Linked DNA regions of Homo sapiens: regions 1 and 2 are each linked to region 3. The links come from fine-mapping of genetic effects on plasma protein levels. A gene starts in region 3. Each other region holds a variant in brackets. All regions are shown on one strand. Distances are from middle to middle.

Region 1 (8,000 bases), 35 kb after region 3:
AGTAGAGAGCTCTGCAAAAAAATTACTCATGAATTAAATCGGCTTTTGCGTTCTATGAAAAGACTCAAAATGTAAAATTCTACATGAATCATTCATGTTTGGGGCATTCTCCTTAAAAGTAGAGAAAGACTATGAAAAAACAGGCAAGAAGCCTGTGGAAAAAATCACTACGCATTTTTCGAGGTTTACTCCAGTCATTTTTAAAAGTCACAAATGAGAGAGAGAAAAAAAATCACTACTTGTTTTCGAGTCATTGACCATATGGAAAAATGTGTGGTACTTTCAACCAAGATCATAAGTGTGGAGGTCGACTCTAAGACGTCTGCCTGATCCTGCCTCCCGTATTGCCCTATATAATTCCCTCTCTCTGAGTATGGGCTGTGGCTAGAGTCTTGCGTCTAACCAGTAGAATATAGCAAAACTGATGCAATGTCACTTCTGAGATTAGGTTACATAAAGTCTCTGGCTTCCAACTTGCTCATCTTTGTGCCTTCTGATGAAGTCAGAGGCCATGTTGTGAGTTGCCCTATATAGAGCCCCATGTGGCCAAAAACAAGAGAGCAGACTCTAGCCAGCAACCCTTGAGGAACTGAATGCTGCCAGCAACCACATGAGTGTGAGCTTGGAAGCACATCCTTCCCAGTCAAGCCTTGAGATGACCACAGTCCCAGATGACACTTTATTTATTTATTTTTTTCTGAGACAGAGTCTAGCTCTGCCACCCAGGCTGGAGTGAAGTGGGTGATCTTGGCTCACTGCAACCTCCACCTCCCAGGTTCAAGCAATTCTCATGCCTCAGCCAATCCCCGCCCCCCTCCACCCCCAGTAGCTGGGACTATAGGCCCGCACGACCATGCCTGGCTAATTTTTGTATTTTTAGTAGAGATGGGGTTTTGCCATGTTGGCCAGACTGGTCACAAACTTTTGGCCTTGAGTGATCTGCCCACCTCAGCCTACCAAAGTATTAAGATTACAGGTGTGAGCCGCAGCGCCAGCTCCGGCTGACACTTTGATCGTGGCCTTGTAACAGTACACAGCTAAGTTGAGAGACATTGCAAGACAATACATGTTGTTCTAAGGCACAAAGTTTTGGGGGTAATTTGTTATGCAGCATATAGATAATTAATACAATAAGATTTATTTAAATGTATACTAATGTGACTTACCAAGTAGCTACTGTATGTATGGCATTAAAATCTACTTTTTAATCAAGGAAGATGTAGCTCCTTTCCTTTTTTTTCCCCATAAACACAGAAGCAAAAATATATTGGTGTATCAGTTTCCTATTGCTGCTATAACAAATTACTCTAAAACTTAGTGCTTTAAAGTAACAAAAATTTTTATCTTACAGTTCTTGAGGTCAGAAGCCCCAAAATGAGCCTCATAGGTCTAAAATCAAGCAGGACTGTATTCTTCCTGGAGGCTGTAGGGGGACATTTGTTTTCTTGCCTTTTTCAACTTCTAGAGGTTGCCACTAATCCTTGGCTTGTGGGCCCTTCCATTTTCAAAACCAGTAATCACATCACTCTGACCTCTGCTTCTATTGTCACATGTCCTTCTCTCACTCTGACTCCCTGTCTCCCTGTTTCTCTTATTTAGATTCTCATTTATGACACAGGGTCCACCTGCATCATCCAGGCTAATCTCCCTATCTCAGCAGCATTAACTTAGTCACATCTGCAAAGTCGTTTTTGCCATGGAACATAACATATACACAGATTCTGGAAACTGGGACGTGGACATCTTTGGGGGGACATTATTTTGCCTACCACAGAGGGGTAGACTATATGGTTTCTAAATAAATTTTGTTTATTGATCTACATATACTGTAAAGGAAAAGTTATAAGGTGAGGAAAAGCAAAAAGGTTCATAAAATCAAGTTTTTTCCATAACAGCTCTCCATTTTTAACATTCCAGATCCTGCCTTTAAGTATCTAGAGGCAAAGGTGCTGTAAAAGGAAATGAGGAAAATAAACAGAGTGGCTGTTGAGGGCCAAACTGTGATACAGTCAGTCAGAAGACAAGGGGGACATGAGGACAAGAAGGCACATGTTTCTTGGAAAAGACTGATATTTTCCTAGAAATATAGATTTATGTCCTTCATAATTAATGGTAACAAACAGTGTTATCTGTAAATCAGTTTACAGCAAAAGGAAAGTCAGATTGCCTTGCGCCTTGCAAGAAATGGTAAAAGTCACCATTAAAAAACTACTTACTCTTATTTTAGCCAAGATCTAATATAAAAAAC[G/A]TGTGGCCAATGTGAAAGGAATCTGGTACTGTCAGAAACTCGACAAATTAGATTCTTTGTAAGTGATGCACCGTCCAGCTCAATTCCTGATATCAACTGCCTTCCAAATCATCACTGCATGAAACATCTGTTTTCTGCAAGATTAGCACAACCCAAGAGAAACGTGCCTAGCCTGAAGGAAATAAAGAGATGGTAAAAATCGATTCAAATAGTATTCATGGGAAGGAACTCAGATAAAACCTAGTCTGATTCATGAGAAACGTTTTCAGTCTCCCTTAACTGGATTTCCCTTGGAATATATGCATTTTCCCAGTATCAGGGAGAGGATGGTAGCAGTGTATGCTTCTATTGCTATCCAATTAGTCTGTTAATGATAAAACCAAGTCAACATTAAATTAGTTAGACTGCAAAGCTTATGCCAAAAGCCAAACATAATCCAGACATCCATGTCAAATCCCTTTACCATGAGTAACAAAACAATCAAAACATTATAAACGAAACATGTCCAGGACCCAGCCAATGGCCTACACATTTCACGAAATATTTGATACAACAAAGCACCCAAATAAAAAGAATCTAGACAGTCCTTGGAGTTTATGATGGAATTTGACCTGGAAAGGTGGAAAAAAAAAAAAGACAAATGGTGACCTTGATTTGAATTACTTCATAATAAACTTTATACAGCATAATTTTACCATCCAGTATGTCTGATGACAGGCAGCCAGGACTATCAAAGCTGCAAATAATGAGTGCTTTATAATACTTGAATTAATTGTTAGGCACTAAACAGAGAAGCCTCAAACTTTGTATTTGTCACCTAATGCAGTGGAAGCATGGATAAGTCTGTGTGTGTGTGTGTGTGTGTGTGTGTGTGTGTGTGTGTGTGTGTAAGACAGAGAGAGAGATAGGGGAGGGAGAGAGAGAGAGAGATACAGACAGACAGACTGAGAAAGAGAGAACACTATAACTAAAAGTGATGTATTGGAAAAGAAAGGATCTTTTGCTTCATAGCTGGGTTCATAACGCACTTGTTTAAAGTGGGTTTACAGACGCTCAATGCTAAATGTGCAATTCTAAGCTATTTCCTGTTGTATCCCTATAAAAATGTTTTTGAGGCCGGGTGTGGTAGTTCATGCCTGTAATCCCAGCACTTTGGGAGGCCGAGGTGGATGGATTACCTGAGGTCAGGAGTTTGAGACCAGCCTGGCCAACATGGTGAAACCCCATCTCAACTAAAAATACAAAAATTAGTTGGGCGTGGTGGTGGGTGCCTGTAATCCCAGCTACTCAGGAGGCTGAGGCAGGAGAATCGCTTGAACCCGGGAGGCAGAGGTTGCAGTGAGCCGAGATCATGCCATTGCACTCCAGCCTGGGCGACAAGAGCTAAACTCCGTGTCAAAAAAAAAAAAGTGTTTGAGGCTGGGCGCAGTGGCTCACACCTGTAATCCCAACTTTGGGAGGCCGAGGTGGGCGGATCACCTGAGGTCAGGAGTTCAAGACCAGCCTGGGCAACATGGTCAAACCCCGTCGCTACTAAAAATACAAAAATTAGCCAGGCATGGTGGCATGCGCCTGTAGTCTCAGGTACTCGGGAGGCTGAGGCAGGAGAATCACTTGAACCTGGGAGGCAGAGGTTGCAGTGAGCCGCGATCACACCACTGCACTTCAGCCTGGGCGACAGAGCAAGACTTCATCTCAAAACAACAACAACGACAACAACAACAACAACAAAACATGATTGAAAACAAATCTCAGGTTTAAAATTCATGATGACAAAATAAAATGCAAATACAGCTTTGGAAACTGACAGATATACGTTCTCTCTCAGGAGGCAATATAAGGTGATGTCTGAGAGCAGAGCAAAAATGAACATGAACCATACACTTCCTGCTAGTGGGATTGTGGAGAAACTGGTATTCTATATGCTGCTAATAGAAAGTGTGACTGCCTCTTTGGATTGCAACCTGACAATGTCTTTTAAAACTAAGCATGCATAGATCTGGTGACCATCCCTGGAAACCTGTCTCATCAAAATAAATTTCCACATGGGAAGGCAGATACACAAGGTATTCATTGCAGACCAGTTTGCTGTAGCCAAGCACTAGGAACAAAGTGAATTCCCATTGATAGAAAATAGCTAAATACATCATAGTATGTATTTAGATGATGTAGAATATCACTGTTAAAAGGAGCCACCATTAATGATGAGTGCCTGTAGTCCTAGCTACTTGGGAGGCTGGGGTGGGAAGATCTCTTGGGCACAGGAGTTCGAGGTTGCAGTGAGCTATAATTGTGCCACTTTACTCCAGCCTGGGTGACACAGAGAAACCCTGTCTCTTAAACAAAACAAAACAAAAGGAGCTATATAAGTAAACTGGGAAGGATTTCCATGAGTATTTTTCAGTCAAATAAATAGGACGTAAAAGAGTAGTTATGATTCCATTTTATTAAAATGACAAAATAACCTGATATTTGCATATATGTGAATGCACATATATGTCAGTGTATAAAAATAAGTGTGGAGAAAAATACAGCAAGATATAATTCAAGGATATATCTGTGATCTATATAGTGAGGGTACTGGACATAGATAAGGGAGGACAAGGGATTGGAGGAAAGCAACTCAAAAGTTTAAAGATAAAAGCACTGCACTAAAAGGTTAAAGCACACATACACTTAATGTTATAAAAATCACGGATAGTGAAGGCTTATGTTTAAGCAAATTAATCTAAAATTTTTCTGTACTTAAATAGCCAGAATGGAATCCAAAATTAGTAGAAGGAAAGAAATAATCAAGATCAGAGTAGAAGTAAATGAAATTGAGACAAAAAAATACAGAAGATCAATGAAGTGACAAGTTGGTTTTTTGAAAAGATAAATAAAATTGACAAACCTTTAGCTGGACTAAGAATAAATGAGAGAAGACCCAAATAAATAAAATCAGAAATGAAAAAGAAGACACAATAACTGAGACCATAGAAATACAAAGAATCATTAGAGACTATTATGAACAACTATATGCCAAGAAATTGGAAAACCCAGAAAAAATTGATAAATTCCTGGATACATACAACCTACCAAGATTGAACCATGAAGAAATAGAAAACTTCAACAAAGCAATAACTAGTAATGAGATAGAAGCCATAATAAGTCTCCCATAAAAAAAAAAAAAGCCCAAGATCTGATGGCCTCACTGCTGAATTCTACCAAACATTTAAAGACAAATTAATACCAATCCTACTGAAACTCTTCAAAGAGACTGAAGAGGAGGGAGTACTTCCAAATTTATCCTATGAGGCCAGCATTACCCTGATACCAAAACCAGACAAGAACGCAACAAAAAAAGAAAACCACAAGTCAATATTGCTGATGAACATAGATGCAAAAACTCTCAACAAAATACTAGCAAACTGAATTCAACAGCACCTTAAAATGATTGTTCACCATGATCAAGTGTGATTCATCCCAAGGATGCAAAGATGTTTCAACATTCAACATACACAAATCAATAAATGTGACACATCACATTAACAGAATCAAGAAGAAAAAACATCATTATTTCAATAGATGCTGAAAAAGCATTCAATAAAATTCAACATCTCTTTATGACAAAAACCTTTAACAAACTGGGTATAGAATGAACGTACCTCAAAATAATAAAGGCCTTATTATGACAAACCCACAGCTATCACCATATTGAATGGGAAAAAATTGAAAGAATTCAGTTGAAAAACTGAATTCTTCTGAGATCTGGAACAAGAAAAAGATGCCCATTTTAACCACTTTTATTCAACATAATACTGGAAGTCTTGGCCAGAGCAACTAGGCAAGAGAAAAAAAAAAAACAAAGGGCATTCAAATAAGAAAGGAAGAAGTCAAACTAGTCTTGTTCACAGATTACATCATCTTACACTAAGAAAAACTTAAAGACTCCACCAAAAAAAACCTATTAAGACTAATAAACAAATTTGGTAAAGTTGCAGGATACAAAATCAACATACAAAAATTAGTAGCATTTATATACACCAAGAGTGAACAATCTGAAAAAAATATCAAGAAAGCAATCCTATTTACAATGGTTACAAAAAAAGATTATAAAATACCTGGGAATCAACTTAACCAAAGAATTGAAAAATCTATACAAGGAAAACTATAAAACACTGATGATAGAAATTGAAAAGGACACAAAAAAAATTGAAAGCTATTCTGTGCTCATGGATTGGAAGAATTAATATCATTAAAATGACAATACTACCCAAAGCAATGTACAGATTCAATGCAATCCCTACCAAAATGCCAATCTCATTCACAGAAATGAATCCTAAAACTTATATGGAACCATGAAAGACCCCAAATAGCCAAAGCAATCCTGAGCAAAATGAACAAAGCTGGAGGCATCACACTGCCTGACTTCAAATTATACTACAGAGCTATAGTAATCAAATCAGCATGGTATTGGCATAAAAACAGACACATGGATCAATGGAACTCATTTTTGACAAAGGTGCTAAGAACATACACTGAGGAATAGACAGTCTTTTCAATAAATGGTGCTGGGAAAACTGGATATTCATATGCTGAAGAATGAAATTAGACCCCTATCTCTTGCCATAAACAAAAATCAAATCAAAATGAATTAAAGACTTAAATTTAAGACCTCAAAATATGAAACTACTACAAGTAAACATTGGGGAAAATCTCCAGGACATTGGACTGGACAAAGATATTTTGTGTAAGACCTCAAAAGCACAAGCAACCAAAGCAAAAATAGACAAATGATATTATATCAAGCTCAAAAGCTTCTGCACAGCAAAGGAAACAATCAATAACATGAGGCTGGGTGCGGTGGCTCACGCCTGTAATCCCAGCACTTTGGGAGGCCGAGGCAGGCAGATCACTTGAGGCCAGGAGTTCAAGACCAGCCTGGCCAACATGGTTAAACCACATCTCTACTAAAAATACAAAAATTAGCCAGGCGTGGTGGCACACACCTGTAATCCCAGGTACTTGGAAAGCTGAGGCAGGAGAATTGCTTCAGCCCAGGAGGTGGAGGTTGCAGTGAGCAGAGGTCACACCACTGTACTCCAGCCTGGGTGACAGAGCAAGACTCTGTCTTAAAAAAAAAAATAGTGAAGAGACAACCCACAGAATGGGAGAAAATATCTGCAAACTACCTATCTGACAAGGGATGAATAACCAGAATATATAAGGAGCTCAACAATTCAATAGCAAAAAGAAATCCAATTTAAAAATGGGCAAAAGCTCAGAATAGACATTTCTCAAAAGAAGACATACAAATGGGCAATAGGTGTATGAACAAAATGCTCAACATTACTAATCACCAGAGAAATGCAAACCAAAACCACAACGAGACATCATCTCACCCCAGTTAAAATGGCTGTTATCAAAAAGGGAATAACACATGCTGGTGAGGATGTGGAGAAAGGGGAACCCTTGTATACAGTCAGTGAGAATGTAAATTAGTACAACCATTATGGAAAGCAGTATGAAGGTTCCTCAAAAAACTAAACATAGAACTACCATATAATCCAGCAATTCAACTACTGGGTACCTATTTAAAAGAAAGAAATCAATATATCAAAGAAATACCTACACTCCCATGTTTATTGCAGCATTATTCACAATGTACAAAACGTAGAATCAACCTAAGTGCCCAGTAATAGATGAATGAAGAAAATGTGATATAAATATACAATGAAATATTATTCAGCCATAAAAAGAATGAAATCCT
Region 2 (8,000 bases), 26 kb after region 3:
ATGGTGCCTGGACTTTCATCTGTGCACAGGATGTGTCATGACTGGTGTTCATATTCTCTTCCCTCACTGAATGTTCTGTAAGCTGAAAGGCACCCTGCCCTGGGCATACCTGTGCTGGGATATAGAGAGGGCTAGTGTAGGAGAGAAGGTGGCATAGTATTCAATTACATAAAATGGTGTCATCCTACCTTTTCTCCCTTCAGTAGTTTAAATTAAATTGCAATTGAGCCCTAAGTGACACAGCCATAACTTACCAATATACACATCTCCAGATATCGTGTAAATGAAGCTTGTCCACCCTGGAAAGGACCAGCAACATTAACATGTTAGTGTCCATAATGCCAAAAGGAACAAAGACATATACGTATTACAAACACAAAGATAAATTTGGAGACGAAATCCTTTTTTTCCCTTTAGATAGACATTTTAAGATTTAAGTTCTGTGAACTGTTTAAAATATACACTGACACTCATTCTCTTTCTCACACACAAACACAGACATACCCCTAAACCTAAATGACTTGGTCCCAAATATTTAAGAAGCACCCAAAGTACAGTGTACAATTCACTTGGCTGTGTATCTATAGGCTACAAGCTGTATTACCAAACAAACTATTCCTTCCAGTTGTAATGTTATGATAGTAACTGCAACACTCCAGTCTGGCTTTATCTTCCATTTGTTGTGCCTCCAGTGTGTCTGAAGTGTGAAGCTGATGCTAGAAATATGCTTTTTTTTTTGAGCTGGAGAGCAGTGGTGCCATCTCAGCTCACTGCAACCTCTGCCTCCCAGATTCAAGCGATTCTCCTGCCTCAGCCTTCCTAGTAGCTGGGATTACAGGCACACGCCACCACATCTGGCTAATTTTTGTATTTATAAAATTATTTAGTAGAGATGCGGTTTCACCATGTTGGCCAGGCTGGTCTCAAACTCCTGACCTCAGGTGATCCGCCCGCCTTGACCTCCCAAAGTGCTGGGATTACAGGTGTGAGCCACCGTACCCGGCCTGCTTTTTTGTACTTAGTTGCATTCTAGTTCCAGTGCATTCTAGTTGCATTCTGGTTCCAGTGAACTCCTTCTTTTATTCTATCCTAACAGAATATGCATCAGTTCCAGGGATGCAGGAATACATAATCTTAGGGATATAAATGGGCTCCAGGATGGCCTGTGAACTCCCTGGAATTGTTCACAGTTTTTCAAGTGTGTACACTTTTCTGGAAAGAGAGTATATAGAATTCACCAGATTCCTACCATGACCCATGGGGCCAAGAAATCAAAATCACTCACAATAGGCTATTTGCACTCTCAGCACCAACACTTGATTTTCATAGATGTTTATATATTGTACCCATGGCTCAGAAGAGATGCTGTGTTTCCACTGAGAGATATGAACCTAGAAAAGGCACAGTCGAAATGGAATCATGATATCCCTCCATGTGCCTTCAGTGGAAAAGGAGATCTGGAAAGAGAATGCAGGGCACAGTTCAATGCTGGAAGGACAGAGCCCACACTGGAGTCTCTGGAGGAGTCAGCGTGATGACAGGGTAAACAAAGGCGAGTGCAGAAGGAGCAAGGAGGCCAAAATATGTTCCAAAGATATGACTGTCATGGCAGATGGCTTGAAACGTTCAACTGGATACAAAAGAAAAGCTATAACTGAGAAAACATAAATTAAGTCTCACTAAGAAAATCTGAAGGATGGCAAAACAAACACACATGAGCAAGTGCCAGAGAATATTTTCCCATCCCCCTATTTCACAGTTTTTCCTCTCTGAGATTTTACTAGAATGAGTTTAAGCTCTCTGAAAGTAATGTTACTTATTCATAGCTTACTCGTTTTTCTCCCTTTTTTTTTTTTTTTTTTTTTGAGACGGAGTCTCACTCTGTTGCCCAGGCTGGAGTGCAGTGGTGCGATCTCCGCTCACTGCAAGCTCCGCCTCCCGGGTTCACACCATTCTCCCGCCTCAGCCTCCCGAGTAGCTGGGACTACAGGCGCCCGCCACCATGCCCAGCTAATTTTTGTATTTTTAGTAGAGACGGGGTTTCACCATGTTAGCCAGGATGGTCTCGATCTCCTGACCTCGTGATCCACCCGCCTCGGCCTCCCAAAGTGCTGGGATTACAGGCGTTTTTCTCCCATCTTAACCCACTCATATTTAGTCTTCCGAGCTTTGTCTACCATCATTTACTGAACATCTACCATGGGCATGTACTTTAGAGGAAGATACAAAAATGAATAAGGCATAGCCGGGGTGTGCAAATTGTGCACCTTTGGCGGGGGGAGGTCCATGGTAGATGCTGAAAACACACACTAATAATTTACAGCCAGATCCCATGTCTTATCTGGATGGGCTGGCTCTGCTGGAGCACTTCTTTCTTTGTTTTCTAATGAATGCTGAGCTTTTCTACTTCTATTTAGCCTGACTTGTAATCATACTCTACAACCAAACCCCTTTCTTCTCTGCTTTTTCAAAAGTTTCGCCACAATTGTTTTTCTTTTTCAGAGCACCAATAGCTTCATTTTTTCTGATTATAAAAAAACACATTAATTTAAAAATATTTTAAGAATATGAAAGTGTGGGACATCTAAACTGAAAATCTTTCTGCAATCTTCATTCCTACCCTGACATAAATATTGTTAGCAATTTGGTATCTGTGTTTTCAGTTTTTTTTTTCTTTTATGCACTATAAGTTATTTCCTTAAAAACTAGAACTAACTCAGGTTGGGCACGGTCACTCACGCCTGTAATCCCAGCACTTCGGAGGGCCAAGGCGAGCAGATCACGAGGTCAAGAGTTCGAGACCAGCCTGGCCAACATGGTGAAACCCCGTCTCTACTAAGAATACAAAAATTAGCCAGGCGTGGTGGCACGTGCCTGTAATCCCAGCTACTTGGGAGGCTGAAGCAGGAAAATTGCTTGAACCTGGGAGGCAGAGGTTGCAGTGAGCCGAGATCTCGCCACAGCACTCCAGCCTGGGCGACAGAGCAAGACTCTGTCTCGGAAAAAAACAAAACAAAACAAAACAAAACAAAAAAACTAGAACTAACTCAATATTCTATTTTGGATACCTTTCCATGTCAAAACATAGAGAAGTAACTCATCCTTGGGAAAAACTGCATGCATTCCATTGTAAGGACATGTCATAATTTATACAACGAATCCTCTATTCACGGTTTAAAGGTATTAAAAAGTGGTTACCACATTTGACAAAACCTCAAAACTCTCAATAGTTCAACCAGGCTTTTATTTGAGTTCATTTTGATTGTTCTAATCTCATTTCTCCTCCACCTGCTTTGCTTCCTGTTCACCCTTCAAGCAGAAATCTAGTCCACAAATAATTGCCTAGATCTGTTTTTTTTCCTTTTTTATCTTTTTACATGATCTGGAAGGACCAAACATTTGCTTAAAGGAATGGCCTAAGTCAATTTACTAAGTGTGTTCATATATTTTTACTCCTTGTAAAAGTCTTCTGCTAGGATATAGTGTCCATCTTTGCCAGTAATAACACAACTCATGTTGCTGATTGGAAAGCACAGAGTGTTAGAGGGCATGGAATAGAAATGAAGGCAATTTACTTTTTTCTTTCTTTTTAGCATGATGCCCATCTGCACTTGCTTCTGTTAATTTGTTTAATTTCCACTAAGCTTTGTTTCTTCAGCTTGCTGCAAAAGAAAACAAATGCCAAATTTCATGAATGCTTACTATATGTTTAACAACAGCCACAGAAGAGATCTCTTGTCAGATTTTCAGGTCCTTCTCATCTTTCTTTCTTCCCTCACCTCTCCTCCCACTTTTATGTCCTGCACCAAGAATTGATGTCATCCCCCAATTTTTATTGCTTTGTCAGAGTTCACACCCTGCTACATTTTCCTTTCTCCTACAAATATGGTCTGCAAGCTACTGTCTCTTTGCAGCTGAAAAGCTCTTCCCTTCCCTTGGGCAGTGATGAATAAAATGAGCTGGGAGGGAGGTCACATTTTCGTTCTGGCCTCCTAGGACAGTTAAGTCAGCAACGCATTTTAAGTCAGACCTCCTTTAGCCAAACATTAAAAACCCAAAACTTTTAAAAAATATGTAAATCATTTTCTGTGGCAGTTGCTCTCATTTCCAGAGAGGCTCCTAATTCTTGCAAACGTCCCTAGTGAGAGCTTTCCTCAGCCTACATTCCTTGCCTTAACCCGGGTCATTTTCCTTCTGCCTCAGTCTTGGAGTTCATTATTCCAATGAACTTACAAGTATTCCTTACACCTGTATGTGCAGAAAAAATAGAAAAACACGGCCTGGTGACACACCAACACCATTAACAGAGATAAGGGCAACTGGGCTAAGGAGAGATTGCAACCCTTCACAAACTCTGGATCACATAATTGCCAGACCGCAAAGCAACCCTGGTCCCTAAGATCCTCCTCCCATACCCGCAACCTCCCCCCCGCCACCGGAAGTCCCCACATCAGCTTTGGCAGGTAACTCCTTCATCTAGGACCTCAACCCTGGCCTCCTAGGACAAGAGGCAGACCTGCCTGGTTCTTCCCTCCCGCTCCTCCTTCCACCAAATTCTTTTTAATTTTTATTTTAAAATAATTTCAGACATATCAAAAAGTTGCAAAAATACTACAGAGAATTATTGTACACCATTCACCTAGATTCCCCCAAAGCTAACATGTTAACATATATGCTTTATCATTCTTCTTGCTATAAATATATGTCATTCTTTTTTTTTCTGAACTATTTGAGAGTAATTTGCAGACATGTAGCCCCTTTACCTTGAAATAATTTTCAGTATGTATTTCCTAAAAACAAAGATATTTTCTTACAAAAGTATAGTGCACTTATGGAAATTATGAAATTAACATTGATACAATGCTACTATCTATGTACGGATATTCAAATTGTGTCAGTCATCTGAGTAATGCTTTTTATGGAAAAGGAGAAATAAATTTCTAGGCCAGGACCCAACCTGCGATCACACGCTGCACTTAGTTGTCATGTCTAATCTTCTTTCATTTGAAACAGTTCCTCAGTCTTTTTCTTTCATTAAAAGTACAGACCAGTTATTTTATAGAATGCCTCTCAGTTTGGGTTTATTTGATGTTTCTTCGTTAGACTGAATTGTTTGCTAATCCCTGTCCCTCCCAGATTTAGAGAATTTTCATTTATTTTCAATACTTTAATTTTTAATTCAGAAGAGCACAAAGGATGAAATAATGAACATATATGTTTGCCATACTTATTTCATATCTATCTTTTCTTTAAGATAAAAACCATACAGGTGAAAAAAAGTCCCCTAACTGGTTGCTGCCAATCCATTTTCTACACGCGTAAATTGCACCTTTTTAGAATCTCCACTTAAAATCCTTCAATGGCTCCCTGTTCTCCCAGGACAAGCCCAAACTTCTGACAGACAAACTCTTCTCAATATGGTCCTACATTTCTCCAGTATCATGGCCTCTCTGCCTGCCCCGCCTCCATATTTAATTCTATCCATGCAACTCTCTCTTGGGGAGTGGGGAAACAAAGCGCAGCAGCAAACCTTAAAGGAGGCTTTGTGGAGAACCACGGAAAACAAACCAACTAAGCAACCATGAAACAGCAACAAAAATGAGCACACACCATTACAGGCAGAAAGTTCCTGTTTCAACATCAGTGCATCACCCTCAGGGAGATCTAGGACCAGACTCTTCATCTCTTCAAGCCTCTTTGCTGGTTTGTAAAATAAGGAATGAATACGTATAACACAGAGCTGTTGTGATGA[A/G]CACAGTCTAATGAGGAAACATCAAACATACTGTTTCTATTGTATGTCTGTATAAACATATATAAATGTCCTTATACATCTGTACATACATATGTGTGTTATATGTTTTTAATCTTCTCTACACAATGCCAGGCACTTAGGAGGTATTTAACAAATATCAGTTCATTTTCCTGCCCCTTTCTTCTTTTTCCACTTTCCTTCAAATCTGTGCATGTGGAGACGTTACACAATTCTGATGAGGCTGTGACCCAGGCCAGAGAAGGGTCATTGCTATGGAGATGGCCCTAAGCTCCCTGCTGCACCCACCTCACACCAAGCCAATTAGTCTCTTCGACTGCGGAGCAAAGCTCAGCAGGGTCATCATTTCCCAAAAGAAGTCTACATTTTTGCGACGTCTCCCAAAACGTCCTCATCAAGAACCTCATGGCATTAAGGATGCTGTCTGTGTCCCACCAAACACTGCAGACTAGAATTGGTGACATAAGTTGGGTTGTCTGATCATACAGCAAGTAACAGCTCACCGTAAGATCTACTAGCTTGCCAAGAATAGGCATTTAACCCCCATCTTATAACTGAATATAAACAGCAAGATAAAGAAATGTCAACTTTGTAACTCCACAATCTGAGAGATAGGTTATTACCTGAACTTGTGAGAATTCCATTGGAAAAAAATGAGAATGCCCGTTTTACCAAATTTGATGAGTGACACCAATAATAAAATGCCAAACTATATAACAAAATGGTATACACATCAAAACACTTGAGACAGTTAGTTTTCCAGAATAAAATAGACTCAGAATGCACTTTATACATTACAGAACGATCATACTACAGGCTGTTTATAAGCCATGGGCATATAACATTAAGAGCCATCCCTCAGGATCCCATATTTTAAGTAAGCACAATTGCAGCCTATAGGAGAACCCTGTCTTATGGTTTGGTCCACATTCATAATACTGAACACTCATTGCATCAGAAGCTAACAGGAAAGCTAAGAAATAAATGAAATTTAACATTTTGAATGAGAAATATATAAGCAATATAAGCTCTCTAGAATGTAAACTCAGAATACAGCCTTCTGCATGCCCAGAATGAAGCCTAGCCCGCTGGAGGGCAAACCCTGCTGATTATTTTCTTGCTAATACAATAGTACTACAAATGTATTAGAATGCCCTAGAAGCTTATTAGAATGCCCTAGAAGCTTATCCTGTTCTTTAAAAAAAGTTTAAAATCGACACATAATAATTGTATCCTGCTCTTTAGAGACTAAGTGCACAATGATGCATTGAGGTTTTCTCATCAAGACATTTAATAAAGTTTTTAACTAAAGTAATATATGCTACTACTATTTCTTGGTTTTATTTGAACAGAACTTGTCTCCTCTTCAGACACACAGTATTCACAACTGATTTTTAATTGCTCAGAAAAAAAATCAGAAAATAATTCAAATAATGTAGACATAATCATAAAATTCTATTTTAGCACTCTAAAACAGAAACTAGTTTAGGCATTCGAACTTAGATTGAAGCCACGTTTATAGACTATTAAGATCTGAAATATACAGAACTTTAAGGATTAAATACATGTTCAAAAAATAATAGAAACCTGAAATTAGCAGGGAAAGTCATAAATAACCCTAAGATTACTTCAGGATGTATTTGGACACCTAACTGTTTTTAAGAGAAAGAGGCCTTTTTTCAAAATTACAGACAGAGTCTCACTTTGTTGCCTAGGCTTGTCTCGAACTCCTGGCCTCAGTCCCCCAAAGTGTGTGGATTACAAGTGTGAGCCACCATGCCCAGCCTGAGAAAAATATTTTTTAAAAGCCCCTGTAAAATATGAAAAAAAATACACCCCTGCCAAAATTGAAACATATTTAAATTCTTAGAATAGGTTTTTAGTTTACATTGATCATCAATTTAACCTGTTTTCTCCTAAAGGTGACATAACAGAAAAACACAACACAATGAGATGATATTACTCATTTAAAATTTTCAAGAATAGTCGTTTTTCTAACCTATGTACAAAATCTTGGATTTATTTACCAATATGCCCAAGACACTACTAATAGAGTACTGTTCACTAAAGGTCCATGTTTTTGTTTGGTGCAGGACAAGATGGCAGTTAAGAGTCCTAGCAGAAACTCAGTCCCATTACTCACTAACTAATTGATATTGAGTAAGTTACTTAATCTCTTTGTACCTCAGTTTCCTCATCTGAAAAATGAGGTAATCATAATCCTTACCTC
Region 3 (8,327 bases):
GGACAAGAATTGTTTATTAAATAAACCAGAAATAGTGCTGGCCAGAAGGCCAATGTGAATGAGAGAAGAGTGAGGATGTAGATACTTATTTACCAAATGTCCAGAGTGTCTACCACATTGTACTTAGGGCTGTCACATACAGATATGTCTATATGCATGGAGCACCCTAGAGTTGTGCAGTGCACATCGTGTACAACTGTATATGACTGTCTGAGCTGTATTAAAAAGCTGGAGAAAATAGAAACAGAAATAAATTCCACATCTAGGCCGTAATCTGATTATATTAATGAACGATGCATAGGTACTGGGTTAAGCTTATTTCTAGAGGAAAACGTGTTCTTCTTAGACTGAGAAACTTAACAGCTAAATAGTATACACAGTGGATTTGAAATCTTAAGTTGAGATTTTCAAACAGATTTGTCTCAGTTCACATGTTCCATGCACTGCTGACTCCAAACAGCTATCCTTGCAAACACAAGTGGTAAGACTAATGAAATTAGGAGGCCTTACACCCAAATGGCATTAAGCACAATCGTCCAGAGCACTAGTAGCTATTTCATGATTGCTACAGGAAAAAAAAAAATCTTCACAGATACCTAGAACTATCGTAGAGGCAATGCTAGTCTAAGCTGGAAAACTGGACAATCTTCAAAGCTAGAAAGTGAAAACTGGGCTGGGGGTGGCTGGAGGACAACCTAGGAGCAAAATTGGCATCACCATCCATTCTGGAAAAGAGGTGGTTAGAAGAGGGGAGGGTGAGGAGAAAGAAATACATATGGACCAAGTACCGAGGAAGACCATGAATTTCTTATAATAAATAAAACATTTTATTTCAAAAAGTAAAAAAAAAAAAACAAAAAATTCAAATACCACCACCCTAAACCATTACCACCATGAATATGTTTTCACACTACATTTTAATTTTAACAAGAAGAACTTTAACATTTAGAAACATTATTTCCTCTTAGATTTTCTTTTCTTAAAAGTTGGGGAAAAAAGAAAACTATAACCAATATTATATATCTCATTATCCCTTACCACTCAGTCATATCTATGCCAAAACTTCTGTTTAGCTATAGGCAATCCTTTCCTTCATATCAGAAATAATTTAATTGAGCGAGGGGTAGGGTGGATATAAGTTCAGTATATGTAGCTTCACTTTTTAAAGGAAATTCTGATATATTCTGAAAAAAAATTGCTAATCGTATTAGTAAGTATATAATGCTGCATCCTCCACGTGTAACAACTTGTTTTCTGTCACATGCAAATTCAGCTGCTTTCCTTCGTTACTCCATTCAACAAATTTATATATTAACAGTACATTCAAAGCATTTAAAACTTCACAGTGCCAGCCGGGCGCGGTGGCTCACGCCTGTAATCCCAGCACTATGGGAGGCCAAGGCGGGCAGATCATCAGGTCAGGAGATCGAGACCATCCTGGCTAACACAGTGAAACCCTGTCTCTACTAAAAATACAAAAAATTAGCCCGGCATGGTGGCACGTGCCTATAATTCCAGCTACTCGAGAGGCTGAGGCAGGGGAATCACTTGAACCCGGGAGGCAGAGGTTGCAGCGAGCTGAGATTGCATCACTACACTCCAGCCTGGGTGACAGAGTGAGACTCCGTCTCAAATAAATAAATAAATAAATAAATAAAACTTCACAGTGCCCAGGACACCTGAGACATTCTTGGTGCTTGTGCTCTTTGAAAGAGCTGAGCAACCTAAAGAATATGACTTATGTCCAACAATTCAGTCTCCTTTATTATACCATCAGATAAAGTGATGTTTTACAAGGAAAATGGAAATATTTTAAAACTCGAGGAGCCCAGCACATCTAAAGGATTTCTGTTTCATGAACTTACGAAAAAGCTGGACAGTCGGAAAAGTCTTACTTGCTTCAAACAAGTCAGACCGTTTTCTCCTGTTACCTATGCTTACAGTCAGATTCCCATTTACCTACAATCTGGCCTTGAGATCCAATATCAAGGCTGGTGGCAGTAAAATGGAGCCAAACACTGTGATTTCTCCCATGTAAATTTGGAATTTGAGAAGTTAGAAAAGTGCTGGCTGCCAGACAAGGTGACTTCCCACTCACCTCCAGCTCAGTGTTCAACATTTTTAAATATCAGCCCCCACCCTCGCCAGGCCACCAACACCAGCCAGGAGCCTTTGAAGACACTTTCCCCCTATGCAATTTGAATGTATAACGTATTTTAAACTACATACCATATGTACTGTATGTACGTCTGTGCGTGATGTATCAAAAGGGTAAAACTTTTTCATCCCTCCACGAACCAATTTTCCCCTGCTGGGGGCGATATCACCCCTGTTGAAAATGCACGTCCTAAACAACAGCTACAAAAACTCAAACTCACATTTAATTGTCTTTTCAAGGCCAGAAGTTCCTAAATCAATAATGATTTAGCACCACTTCAGTCAAAACAATTACATCCGAATCATTTTCAAAATAGAAGCTTAAAATATATATAATCCATGAAATGCATAAAATTGGGCTAAGTATTGTTCCAGCAGTCAGCAACATTCTGGTTAATTTTTTGCATTACTCTCTGTTCGTTAAGCTCTATTTGATGCTTGCTCACAGAACCAAAGATTTGATTAGTGTTGAATTTTACACCTTTCAAGAAGCGAAAAAACCAAACACTCTCTGAGAAAACATTTTTCTGGATGGCAGCAATTGGTAATTTGCAAAAGCAGATAGAAAATGTTCATAGAAAGCACTGCAATTTTCAATTTACCAAACGAATAAACTAACCTCTGCTGCTCACAAAGACCTGAAAATAAATGGCCCACAAAGTTATCAGTCATAAAAACAAATCAATGTTTCATTAAAAAACCACTGTGCCATCTGCATATGCAACCGAGGAGAAACTTCTCCATCCAAAAAGATTCCAGACTGCTCATGTTCTACCATAACTTCAAAAAACAACCAACCCCCACCCCAGCATTTTCAAATACTCATGGCCAGAAGTTTAATAAGACTAAGAAACAGAACAGTCACCAAGAAATGCAGGATATATCCTGTCCAGTCCACTACTAGGATGGTTCTGCATTTTTATATTGTTTCAAAAATAGTGAGGGCAAAGAAAGTCCTCTGTATGAGCCAATAAAAAGAACTTCATCACATTAAAAATTGAGCTCACCTACCTTCACTGGTCCATGTTCATTACTGGAGCCCTGCACCAGCTGGACGTACAACATCATGAAAACATTCACCACTACCCACTCTCTGTACATTTTGAATATTTCAATATCCACTGATTACTAAGCAGTTGACATCAGGCAGCTAGAGAAAATTGTTTCAAAAGGCATTCTCCAGAAGGAAAGTTTGAAACCTCAAAACTTCACACAGAAAACCAAATAATCAGTTCTGATCAAAATCCAATGAAATTATTTCAATTAGGCAAGGTACGCTTTTTTTGCACAATCTTAGGGGTGGGGAGAGAGAGATGAAAAAAATCAAAATGTTCTCCAAAAATAATCAGAAGGTGGACATGTCTTCTACCTGAAATTAGAAAGCACTCTAAATTTACTTCATGTCCAGAAAATTAAAAAAATCTCTCCAATGTATGCCGCAGGTTCTAGTTGCTTTGTAAGGAGGTGGTGTGGCCACCAATGCTTACAGCTACAGAAAGCTGGAACCCAACTCTGGATTGAAACTTTTTTGCACAACCTTCATGGAAGCTTGCAGAAGCATGTGTCTTAAATCTGACACAGATTTTGGCAGAAAATGCAGAGAAGTCTTGGCTGTAATCCTGTTGCGTCCCTACCAATAGCAGGGCAGTTTTAAGAACTGACTCAAATGTTCAGGGCTGCCGTTATTTTAAAGCAGATAACCTGTAACATGAAACCCCAGCACATAGCTTTGACCTTTGTATCTCAGTGGGATTGCTTAAGAAGGGACCTCAGATGCTCATGCATCTGCTGCCAATGACACACAGAAAGCAATCAAATATGATTTTTAAAACCTGCACATGCACAAAAATAATAAAAACATCCATCCATACATGCAAAAAAAGGCAAACATACACAAAACGACTTTTTAAACAGAAGCTTAGTAACTTAGGTATCTCAAATGAAAAACACTGATTTTTAAAGAAACAATGATTAGGTTTATTTGCATGTGCCAGGAAATATCCTACATTTATTGTTACAAAAACCATGTTATCACGTTAGTGTGGAATTCTTTAGAAGCACCGGCTAAATAAGCTTTAGAAATGGAATGCCTTCAATGGCTCAATCTCAGAAATGGCAAAATTCTAGGACACATCAAGACCTGCTCTTCCGCTTTCCACTAGTTCCCAATCTTTGATTTCCAGGTTTTGGCCCTTTCAAACCCATTTTTTGCGTTTCTGAAATCAAGAATAGCTTGAGAAATCTCTTCATTGGTGTTCATCACAAATGGACCTAGGGCAGAAAGAGACATTCAGAAAGTTCTGGGTGGCAATATTTTCCTCTACCACTAGAAATGATATATATTTCTGTAGTTCTTAATTTAAAACAAAATCCAAGCACATCCGAAGAGTAAAAGTTTATTTTCACAGTGTTCAATCCCCAAGGACTGTAAGATGAGTTTCTTGACTAGGATTGTATATGATTATTGATTATAAAGACGAAACTTCAGATAAATGCAATGGCATCTCACCCATTCAGTATAGGTTTCTCACCAGCAATGGTGATCTTTTTTATTAAAAAGAGTCTTAGATTTGGTTCTATTACAACCAATTTTGTAGTTATTTTTATAACATTAGCTGATGTCAAGAATTGAACCCATCTGATACAAAGAACTGACAAATCTTATCATAGCTTTGGTGTCTAAGCAGCATATAAGGCTGTATACTTATTTGAGGATTCTAAGTCATTTTTTGAAAATCAGCAGCACCTATTGACAATAAACAGAAGATTATAAAAATTTCAAGTCGAAGAGCATCATTTTTTAAAAGTTTTCTAGGGGTTGGCAAATGTTTGCTAGGAAGGGCTAGATAGTATGTATTTTAGATTTTGTGGGTCAAACAGTGTCTGTCTCAACTACTCAACTCTTTCATCAAAGTGCAAAAGCAGCCATAGATAATGCAAAAGTGAATAGGTATGGCTGTGTCCCAATAAAACTTCATTTACAAAAACATGCAGTGGGCAGATGTAGCCCATCGACCATAGTTTGCTGACCCTTTTGTCTAATTGCTGGGTCTGAACTCGGATTTTGCTAAAAATGTACAAGAAGTCCTCCCCTAATCTACCAGGAGGCAATGTGTGTTTCTTCCCCTTTCTTCATATATTGTAGGGGCAGAGAGGCACTGGACTGTCTCACCCCCATGATCTGCTAGATGAACAAGGCCAGCTTTTATATGGCATTGACAGTGTCTTTAGAGCAGTTGACAGACTTGTTCACTCAGTGTATGTCCTCATCCAGCCTGCAGAAGTTCCTGACATTCCTTTTATGGAACTGCCTGCTCTAAGGGGCTTTCTCTGGGAGATTCTGATTAATATACAACTGTATTGCTTAGAGAAAATAACATATTCAAACTTCTTAACCATTGTTATCATATCAACATGGATTTGGTGATCACTATAATTTAAATCTTCAGAAGGAAGACACAGGATAATATGTCTTGATGATGCTGAAATCTTTGGAGAGGATGTGGGGAATAGAATACAAGTAGAAAGAAAACACCCAGGCATCTAAATCCATTCATTCAATTACCTATCTATTATGTACTGAATGCCCATTAAATGACAGACATTGTGCTAGAAGCTAGAGACATAAAGATGAAAGACAAATAAATGGCAGACTCCCTCTCCTCAAGGATTCAAATCTATCACACAGATATGAAAAGAAATCATTACAAAACTGTTTGAAATATGGAAGGATAAAAGTGTAAAAACTATAAAATCAACACAGAAAGGGGGAGGAGGAGAAATCCAGGAAAGGATTCACAGAGGGAGTGATGTTTGAGCAGTCACACACGGAGGAAAGGCATGTTCAGGCTTAGTATGCTGGAGGAATACTGGAGGGGATAGGGGTACAGTGGTGGAAGGAGGGATCAAAGGCGGAAAAAATGGCGATCTGAAATATAGGAAGAAACCAGACCCTTCTGGGCTTTGGATGCAATCTACAGGAAGAAGTTTGGACCTACTTTTGCAGGTGATTATGAATCACTGTAAGGTTAAGTAGGGAGTAATATAATATGATTTATAATTTTTAAAGAAGACTTTGGCATCAAGGTAGAAGAGCAGGTGTCTAATTTGGGAGGCTGAGTCAATGGTGGAATTGTTAAGGGTATTTGAGATACAGGACGTGGGAGGCTTTGGATGGAGCAAGGTGTTCAGTTCTGGATATTTTTTGTTTTGTTTTTCTTTTCTTTTCTTTTTTTTTTTTTTTTTTTTTTTTTTTTTTTTTGAGACCGAGTCTTGCTCTGTCGCCCAGGCTGGAGTGCAGTGGTGAGTGGTGCGATCTTGGCTCACTGCAACCTCCGCCTCCCGGGTTCAAGTAATTCTCACACCTCAGCCTCCCCAGTAGCTGGGATTACAGGCACGTGCCACCATGCCCGGCTAAATTTTTGTATTTTTAGTAGAGATTGGGTTTCACCATGTTGGCCAGGCTGGTCTCAAACTCCTGACCTCAAGTGATCTGCCAGCCTCGACCTCCCAAAGTGCTGGGATTACAGGCATGAGCCACCGCGCCCGGCCCAGTTCTGAGTATTTTAACATAGAAGTACTAGAGACAATAAAGTGGTTTCCCAAGCAGAGGTTTTTGGTACATTGTTGAAACTATGGATCTGGAGCTCATGAGAGAAATTTCATCTGGAAATGGAGGTTTGGACTATATCAGGTAGGAAAGAAAAAGAGAGTTAACATATGCAGAATAAACAATAAACCCAAGAGGGTACCCTGGGGAAGACAACTTTTTAAAGGACACGCAGGGGAAAGGGAAATGCAACTTGGAAGATGGGAGCAGGTACTGAGTCAAGGACCAAATTCTTGTGCCTCATAATTTTGCTATGGTTGGGACTTGTGGAGCAGTACTCCCATCCCCCAACTGTTTTCTGTAAGAATGGTGTGCTTCTAGGCTTCCATTTTGACACTTTCTGGGGTAGTCTGCCATGTTTCTCAATTTATAACGTGCACATGAATCAGCTGGGAATCTTATTAAAATGCAGATTCTGATTCAGGAGGTCTGGAGTGAGGCCTGAGATTCTGCATTTCTAACTATCTCCCAAGTGATGCTGATACTGCTGGTCCATGGACCACACTTTAGGAAACAAGTATAACCTCTGTTATACAGGGAAGCATTGGAAGCTTAGAGTCCCCTAAAGCTAACTGATGAAGCTTATCTCCTCAAATCTTCAAGGAGAAAACTGAATCCAGAAAGCATGTTTTTAAATTGATCAACTACAAGGGTTGTGAACAAGAAAATTATTTGATAGTTACCTATAATTCTCTTTCAAATTATAGCTTTCATCACTTCTCTAATTAAGCCTCTGAAGCCCCCCTCTTGTATAAAATGGTGTGTCTAACCTCTTGTTATGTAGAACTTTGGTATAGTGGAGCGAACATAAGACATGGGGTCAGGAGACTAGGGTTCGAGTCCCAGCTCCACTGCTAACAATCGCTTTCCATTAGAGAAGCTACAGGGCAGAGCAATGGACGACCAGCATGGTAAGAGGCAGAAGGGCAGGGTGTTTGGAAAACAGACAGCCTGAGTGTGAATCCAGCTATGTGACCTTGAGTAAGCCAATGAACCTTTGACCTTCTGCTTCTTCATCTGTAAAATGGGCATGAGAGTACCAACCTCATAGGGTTGTTTTGAAGGTTAGACGGATTAACATTAGGAAAGTGCTTTAACCAATGTCTAGGAAATAGTAAATTCTATGCAAGCATCCATTAAGTAAATAAATAAAATATCTGGATTTTATTTTCCTCATCTATAAAAGAGGCATGACTACATCATGGCTAAGGTTATTTTCTATCCTAACATTCTATGATTTCCTGTGCTTAATCTGTGGATGAATAATTAAGGACACACGATGATAAGAGGAGAAAGGGTCTTAGGTAATTCATGAGATCTGTGCAAGTTCCCAATCAAGAGATGGTTGTGGCTGCCTTTAAACACACATAAGTAAAAGAAAAACTTAAATGTCTGAGTTTTTAAAAGTTAAAAAATAAAAACAAAATGCTTTGCTTCTCAGTAACTGAACTTTCAAGGGACATATTTATTTTGTCTGATTACTCCGAGTTTGTATGTGCAGGCATACCTAGTGTCCCTGTGTTCCAAGCCACTGGGAGAGGATCCACATGACCCCAGTGTA

Alleles and levels. Alleles are on the strand shown, and positions count from the first base shown. The strength of an association depends on the size of the effect and on how common the allele is.
In carriers of allele A in region 1, the plasma level of the protein whose gene starts at base 3,725 in region 3 tends to be higher than with G alone (strong association).
For the plasma level of the protein whose gene starts at base 3,725 in region 3, G is the low allele of the variant in region 2 and A is the other (moderate association).

What was found. PIP is the chance, under the fine-mapping model, that this variant and not a neighbour inherited with it causes the effect. Protein levels are from antibody-based Olink assays in UK Biobank. Linkage for the fine-mapping came from a reference panel and not from the study's own genotypes, which makes the PIPs less certain.
Region 1: its variant is fine-mapped to the plasma level of the VEGFD protein (UK Biobank, PIP above 0.99).
Region 2: its variant is fine-mapped to the plasma level of the VEGFD protein (UK Biobank, PIP above 0.99).

Annotation. Positions count from the first base shown.
Region 1 is chrX:15,416,252-15,424,251 of GRCh38, forward strand. All of the region lies in intron 6 of PIR (pirin), which reads right to left. The region is part of intron 5 of PIR-FIGF (PIR-FIGF readthrough); the gene reads right to left. Among named protein-coding and RNA genes, the nearest start is that of VEGFD, 36 kb to the left of the region's middle. The variant G/A (reference allele first, on the strand shown) is at 2,249.
Region 2 is chrX:15,407,252-15,415,251 of GRCh38, forward strand. It overlaps PIR (pirin), which reads right to left. Exons shown (of 10, transcript NM_001018109.3): 7 at 255-299. It overlaps PIR-FIGF (PIR-FIGF readthrough), which reads right to left. Exons shown (of 15, transcript NR_037859.2): 6 at 255-299; 7 at 1-131. Among named protein-coding and RNA genes, the nearest start is that of VEGFD, 27 kb to the left of the region's middle. The variant A/G (reference allele first, on the strand shown) is at 5,753.
Region 3 is chrX:15,380,689-15,389,015 of GRCh38, forward strand. VEGFD (vascular endothelial growth factor D) reads right to left here and starts at 3,725. Exons shown (of 7, transcript NM_004469.5): 1 at 3,169-3,725. The coding sequence starts at 3,258. It overlaps PIR (pirin), which reads right to left. Exons shown (of 10, transcript NM_001018109.3): 10 at 4,111-4,428. The coding sequence ends at 4,316. All of the region lies in intron 9 of PIR-FIGF (PIR-FIGF readthrough), which reads right to left.